Linked DNA regions of Homo sapiens. The main gene of each other region encodes a partner of the protein of the gene in region 2 in a complex. Each region holds a gene or a part of one and is shown on either strand. Other genes may lie near its edges.

The links. The genes of interacting proteins can lie anywhere in the genome.
Region 1: DPM2 (region 2) and DPM1 share a complex: the UniProt entries of both Homo sapiens proteins name them as parts of the dolichol-phosphate mannose (DPM) synthase complex.

Annotation. Positions count from the first base shown.
Region 1 is NC_000020.11:50,948,447-50,952,180, forward strand, and holds part of DPM1 (dolichol-phosphate mannosyltransferase subunit 1), read right to left. Parts: intron 217-3,734; coding exon 183-216; intron 1-182. UniProt on the Homo sapiens protein: Transfers mannose from GDP-mannose to dolichol monophosphate to form dolichol phosphate mannose (Dol-P-Man) which is the mannosyl donor in pathways leading to N-glycosylation, glycosyl phosphatidylinositol membrane anchoring, and O-mannosylation of proteins; catalytic subunit of the dolichol-phosphate mannose (DPM) synthase complex.
Region 2 is NC_000009.12:127,935,755-127,939,354, reverse strand, and holds the start of DPM2 (dolichol phosphate-mannose biosynthesis regulatory protein), read left to right. Parts: upstream 1-1,500; 5' UTR 1,501-1,534; coding exon 1,535-1,537; intron 1,538-1,831; coding exon 1,832-1,921; intron 1,922-2,044; coding exon of another isoform or gene 2,045-2,140; exon of another isoform or gene 2,141-2,538; intron 2,539-2,576; exon of another isoform or gene 2,577-2,699; coding exon 2,700-2,802; intron 2,803-3,574; coding exon 3,575-3,600. UniProt on the Homo sapiens protein: Regulates the biosynthesis of dolichol phosphate-mannose. Regulatory subunit of the dolichol-phosphate mannose (DPM) synthase complex; essential for the ER localization and stable expression of DPM1.

The DNA of each region.
Region 1 (3,734 bases), on a different chromosome or scaffold from region 2:
CCTGAGTGGGTCTTGACTTATACAGGCGACCCAAGTTATACCATTTAAATGTCATTAAGATCATTAAAAACCATCATAGGAAGTTACTGTATTTTGGCCCTATTCCAAACTGGGAAAATACACACTGGATCATGTCACCAAGCAAGCAGCAGGTGTGAGGGGTTAGAGATTACACGACTTACCTAGTCCCAACTTTTTCTCTCGTGGTCTTAGAAGCTGTAGGAATAAGAAATAGCATTTTACACACAGAAACAGAAATCTTATCATGTTAAATTTTATCTTATTCAAAAGTGCATACTCACTTTAATAGAAATATAGTTGCACTTGTTAGAACTTAAAGCAAAGTATCCTTAATATTTTTTTGCCAAAAGAAAAAAAAAAGCATTTGGTAACAAACCAAATAGTTTAACGTAGCTAACATTTTTTTTTTTTGAGATGCAGTCTCGCTCTGTTGCCTAGGCTGGAGTACAGTGGCGTGATCTCCGCTCACTGCAACCTCTGCCTCCTGGGTTAAAGTGATTCTCCTGCCTCAGCCTCCAGAGTAGCTGGGATTACAGGCATGCACCACCATGCCCGGCTAATTTTCGTATTTTTAGTAGAGACAGGGTTCCACCGTGTTAGCCAGGATGGTCTCGATCTCCTGACCTCGTGATCCGCCCGCCTCGGCCTCCCAAAGCACTGGGATTACAGGCATGAGTCACCGCGCCCGTCCAGCAAAGCAACATTCTTTAACCCTGACCCTACAATCACAATTTTAAACTTTTTTTTCTGGTGTCACTCACTCTATTTTAAATATGTCTTTACATCTATATTTGATTTTCCTTTTAAATCTATTGATTCCTTCCTAGAAAAATGTAGGACTTACTTCATTATTTTGCACCTTCTTGGGAAATCTGATGTTTGTTCTCTCGATTCCCTTTGGGTTTTGAATACTAATATCACTCTTCCTCTATTAACTTATCTTGACCTTATGCTTGGATGACCTCATCTCCTCTACTGGTCCAAGGACATGTCATATTCCTAATTAAATTCTTTCTCTTTTCTTACTATTGGTCAATCACTTAGTCCTCCTAAATCTTTTTGCTTAATAGTTGGAGCCTGACTTTTACTTGTTTAGTTTTTCCTTTTGGCTGGACACTTTAAAAGTCAAATGCCAAAGTTCTCACTGTGCCCTACGTTTCTGAGGTATGGGGTTCAGGGAGACTCATTAGTGAGCATGTCTTGTCTATCTTGTCCCCTTCTACACTTGCCAGTATATAAGCAGGTTGCCTCTGACTGCAAATCTCTCAACAAAGCATTTTCAATTAAAGCAGATGATTTTTTTTTTTTTTCACTATATGCAATCTGCTGGAGGTTTCTATTTGCATGGAATGTCTTTTTCCATCCCTTCACTTTGAGTCTATGTGTATCCTTACAAGTCAAGTCTTTTGTGGGAAGCATATAGTTGGCTCTTTTTTAAAAAATCCATTCAGTCACTCCAGGTCTTTGGAGAATTTAATCCCTTTATATCCAAGGTAATTACCGACATGTAATGTAAGAACTTCCTACTGCCATTTTGTTAATTGCTTCTAGTTGTTTTGTAGATCTTTTGCTTCTTTCTCTTTCTCCTTTCCTTTATGATTATCTTCTGTACTATTATGCTTTGATTCCTTACTTTTTATCTTTTGTGAATCTACTTTAGGCTTTTCCTTTATGATTACCATGAGACTTACAAAACCCATCTTATAGTGATAACAGGCTATTTTAAGCTGATAACAATCTAACTCTAACTGCTAAAAAGAAATCCTCTACACTTTTACTCCACTATCCCCACATTTAAAAAATTTTAAGTCACAATTTGTATCTATAGCAAAGTACATCTTGCATAAAGATGGATAAAATACACTGCTGTCTGGTAAGAGCTTACAGGAAGGAAAGACATTCAAATAAGCATCTATGATAATTGCAAGTCACTGAACAAAATCGAGCAGGATATATCAGATCACAGCTAGATTTTATTTGATTTTGTGAATAATTTCTGACAAAATACTGATCCCCATCTGGTATCTGCCCTGAAAAAGCAAATTTTTTAAAGCTCATCTGAGATTTTCTACAACTCTGTTTTAGCTGGAAAATCTTTCTTTTAAAAAAAGATAACTTTGGCCAGATGCAGTGGCTCACACCTGTAATCCCAGCACTTTGGGAGGCTGAGGCGGGTGAATCATTTGAGGTCAGGAGTTAAGAGACCAGCTTGGCCAACGTGGTGAGACCTCATCTCTACTAAAAATACAAAAATTAGCCAGGTGTAGTGGCACGTGCCTGTAATCCCAGCTACTCAGGAGGCTGAGGTAGAAGAATCGCTTGAACCCGGGAAGTAGAGGTTGCATGAGCTGAGATCACACCACAGCACTCCAGCCTCAGTGACACAGTGAGACTCCGTCTCAAAAAACAAACAAACAAACAAACAAACAAACATAACTTTGTTACAGTTGCACACCCCCTTAACCCCAAGTGATACTTTCTAAGACCCCCAGGAGATGCCTGAAATCTCCAATAGTACCAAACCTTATATATACTTTTTCTTATACATACACACCTATCACAGTTTAATTTATAAATTAAGCACAGTAAGAGATTAACAATACCCAATAATAAAATAAAACAATTACAACAATATATTGTAATAAAAGTTATGTGAACTTGGTCTAACTCAAAAAATCTTCTTGTACTGTACTTACCTCTTTTCAGACTGCAGGTAACAAATCACGGAAAGCAAAACCATGGACAAGGAGACTATGATACTTATAATTTTCAGAATCTTCAAAGGTTTATATAAAATATTAGAGTATTATGGAGCCATTAACAGAAATGAGGTGAGCTGGTGACAAAAGATCGCCAAGACAGAATTAGAAGTAATGATGATACAGGAAGATGGCAGTTATGTTTTAAAAAACAAGACCACCACACTACCTAGTTCTGCAAATGCACATACACACATATATGCACAAAAAAACGCACCAAACTGTTGACCTGGGTCTCCCCTGTGCAAGGGAATGGGATGCCTATAGAAAATGTTCATCAGGTCGGGCGTGGTGGCTCACGCCTGTAATCCCAGCACTTTGCGGGGCTGAGGTGGGCAGATCACCTGAGGTTAGGAGTTCAAGAAGAGCCTGACCAACACGGTGAAGCCCAGTCTCTACTAAAAATACTAAAATTAGCCAGCATGGTGGTGCAGGTCTGTAATCCCAGCTACTCGGGAGGCTGGGGCAGGAGAACTGCTTGAACCCAGGAGGCAGAGTGTGCAGTGAGCTGAGATCTTGCCATTGCACTCCAGCCTGGGCGACAGAGCGAGACTCCAATCTCAAAAAAAAAATAAATAAATAAATAAATAAAATGTTCATCAAAGGCAACTTCGGTTTTACTGGTAACATTTATATTTTACAAGGATGTGCTTGTTTATTTCTTATGTAGGAAATCCAAACTATTTCTATTTGGTATGCTTTACTTTCAGACTCTTAATTCCACCTCTCCACCCTCCCCTGATCCTTTTTTGCCTCTTCATATCAATCTGATGGCCCCTTTCTATGTGAGGCAGGATAGCATTACAGACAGGAAGATGAACCCTGGAACCACAATGCCTGGGTTTGAATCCTGGCCACTACTCATTTGCCATGTGATCTTGAGAATATAAAGAGGCGTGACAAAGCCCCCTCTCACTTGGCTTTCATGAGGAACAAGCAAGTGGATTCACATAA
Region 2 (3,600 bases):
CAGCAGGCCAAAGGCCTCCACATAACCCCTCAGGGAGGCCTGGAGTCCAGATGCTGTACTCCAGTATCTAAACAATCACTCAATCTTAAAGCTGACAGGTTCAAAGCTCTTACTTTGGGCCGAGCGCAGTGGCTTACGCCTGTAATCCAGGCACTTTCGGAGGCTGAGGTGGGTGGATCACCTGAGGTCAGGAGTTTGAGACCAACCTAGCCAACATGGTGAAAACCCATCTCTACTAAAAATACAAAAATTAGCTGGGCGTGTTGACACGTGCCTGTAATCCCAGCTACTCGGTAGGCTGAGGCAGAAGAATCGCTTGAACCCAGGAGGCAGAGGTTGCAGTGAGCTGAGATCATGCCACTGCACTCCAGCCTGGGTGACAGAGTGAGACTCCCGTCTTGGGAAAAAAAAAAAAAAACAAAAAAACCTCTTTCTTTGGGCCAAGCCTCCACTGAGTGCCAGGGATACAGCAGCAACCTCAGACCCTACCCTCGGGGCTGACAGGGCTGGATCAACAATTGCATCAGTGAATTAAAAGGCACAGGAGGCTGGGCACCGTGGCTCACGCCTGTAAACTTTTGGAGGCCGAGTTGGGAGGATCGCTTGAGCCCAGGAGTTCGACACCAGCCTGGATAACATAGAACTCCGTCTCAAAAACAAACAAACAAACAAAAAAAACGTTCCCGACTGGCTTCCCTGAGGAACGTGGCGTCCCAGTGAGACCGGATGGGTGAGGAGCAGCCGGCCTGTGAGTGGTGGGGGACCGCGTTCCTATCTCGGAGCTGAAGAAGCGTGGAAGATGATCTGGCCCAACATCTCTTTGTTCTCAGAGGAAGGGCCTTCCAAGACCGGGGAGGGGCCTGTGCGTGGGTCCCGGTCCGAAACGTGTCTGGGCTGCTGCGAGAGACAGTCGGTGAAGGAAGGGAGGGGACATCCGAAGGGTGGCCCGGGAGGCCGGGCGATGGTGAGGAGGGCGCCTCCTCTCCACCAAATCCTCCCCATCCATGCGGGCTAGGGACAGACCCTCCCCCGCCCACCCTAGGCTGGAAAGTGAACGTTCTCTGCACCTCTCCCACCTACAGACTAAGTAGGGCACCCGGTTTCCGTGTCGGCTTCACCACTGACTCGGAATGGGATCTACCTTTCTCTGAGCCTCACTTTTCCCATCTGAAAAATGGAACTTCCGATCCCGCACTCCCATCCCACTCTGGCCCCGGGACTCTGGGATACTTAGAGATTGGCTTTTGGTGGGGCGGCGACAGGACTGTGGCCATGAAGGCCAGGGAGTCTGGGTCCCCAACTCGGTCCCATTCCCTAGAGAGATTCGGGCAGCAACCGGCCCCACAATGCTCTTGAGAACTACACTTCGCCGATATGCAAAGAAGAGGAGGCGGTTCCTGCTCGTCTCCGACGAGGTGGGCCCGAGCAGGCCTGGGGACTACGACTCCCGGCGTGCTCCGCAGTCCAAAGCCGGAAGAGCGTGGACCCGGAACCGGATGTGGCTTGCGGCTCGGGTGGCTGAGCGCGCGGGGAAATGGTGAGATTGGCACCGTGTGCCGGAGATAGGGGCGTCTGGGGGTGGGGTCCCGGGTCTGCTCAGGAGCTGGGGCATGGGCACTTGGAACGGGGATTGCTCTCCCGCCCCCACTATTGTACGGACGACAACGCGGAGGCCTAGCATTCTCTCCCAGCCTAGAAACTGATCCCTAGTCAGCCCTCTACCATCTGTTGAATGGGAAGCTTAGACCGTGATCGGGCCGCGACGCCCCGCTTCCATTAGTGCGCCGAAATAGAGGGTCACTTCGTCAGCTGAGACCTCCCTTTTCTCCAGGCCACGGGGACAGACCAGGTGGTGGGACTCGGCCTCGTCGCCGTTAGCCTGATCATCTTCACCTACTACACCGCCTGGGTGATTCTCTTGGTATGTCATTCTCCCCGTCCGCTGCTCACCTTCCCCGAGCCCTGGCACCGCCAGAGCAACTACTATATAGGCTCTAGGCACGGCGCTGGCTTCATTGCCTGCCTCATCTCTTGAACTCTCCAGAACAACTCTATGAGGAAGATGCCAGTGGTACCGCATTTTATAGATGAGATAGCTGAGGCTAGGGGAGAAGGATCTGGCCCAAGATTGCATCCTTAGCCGCTACACTTATAACTCTGTTTCCGGCTTGCTTTGACTTTTGGGGGAGTTCTGTTCCTTCTGGGTTAGCCTGCTGACTCTTAGGCATGGCAAACGCCAGTGATATTTGTGAAGGCCTTTAGGATATTTTTTTCTTGTGGGAAAACTTGTTGGTTATTGCTTAAGAAGTGCAGTGTGTCTGGAAGTGCAGAACTTGGTATCCTTTAGAGAAAAAATATTAGTGAAGAAGCCCTGGAGGCCCAGGTTGGGAGTCAGTCGAGGATTCCTCAAGTACCATTTGCTAGGCTGTGAGGTGCCTTAGGGCAGGTCTCTTGTGCCCTGTTCTCTTGTCCCCACCACCAACCTATAGCAGGCACCAAAGCAAGTGCCCGGTAAATACCAATAAGAAATTAAGGAAAGAAACAAACCACGACACCCAAATGCCGTAATCTTAAAGAAAAGCAAATGCAGTCCCAGTCCTCTGAATGGGTCAGCCCCTTAGATGGAGGAGGTGGGACGTTTGGGCTTGGGGGCTCGGCAAGGCAAGCAAGACACACCAGAGCTCTTCCCTCGATGCCAGCCATTCATCGACAGTCAGCATGTCATCCACAAGTATTTCCTGCCCCGAGCCTATGCTGTCGCCATCCCACTGGCTGCAGGCCTCCTGCTGCTCCTGTTTGTGGGTAAGTCATCACCTCCTCCCCTTGACCCTGGGCAGGGTTTCGGGAAGACCCCACCTCTGAACATGCTTCCACACTTTGGCGGTGCTGGAAGCTGCTTGCCCCGAACTCACCCGTGGGGTTTTCCTGTTCATCCTTCGAGGCTGCCAGTCAGTAACCTCTGGGTTTCCTGGTGCCCCAGGCTTTTTGGACTCCAATGACCTGTCTACCTCTTTCCTGCCCCAACCCCATCATCACTCTGCTCACACCTCAGTCACCCTCTTGTCACCCTGGCTTCTAATTCCTGCACCTCTCTCTCTCATGGCTTCCTAGGGATGGGGACTGTGTCTCCATCATTACTGCACATCTAGAACAGGCTGTGGCACTGAGGCTGTGCTCAGAAAGTCATTTGGATGAGTCAGTCAACAGCCGGGTGCCTGGATGATGGGTGGATGGATGGGTGGGTGGGTGAGGTGTAGGAGGAGGTGGGTAGGTATGTAGGTGGACAGACAAGTGGTTGACCGGGTGATCGATAGATGGGTGGATCTTGTTCCCCTTGGAATCTGAAACACTAAATGCAGCATCTTGCTTGAGGCAGGCACTCAGTTGGTGTTTGTTGAGTGAATGTGAGTAGACATATGCCTTGACGAATGACTAGGGAGATAAGCAGGTTCCCTGGAGGATGGTTGGGTAGGTTCACAGCCCTGTGTGTGGGTGGCTCTGCTGTGTCATGCCCTGGCCTCCCAGCAGCCCTGAGCTTAGATCTTATGTGGCCTTTCTGGTCTGTGTATCCCAGGACTGTTCATCTCCTATGTGATGCTG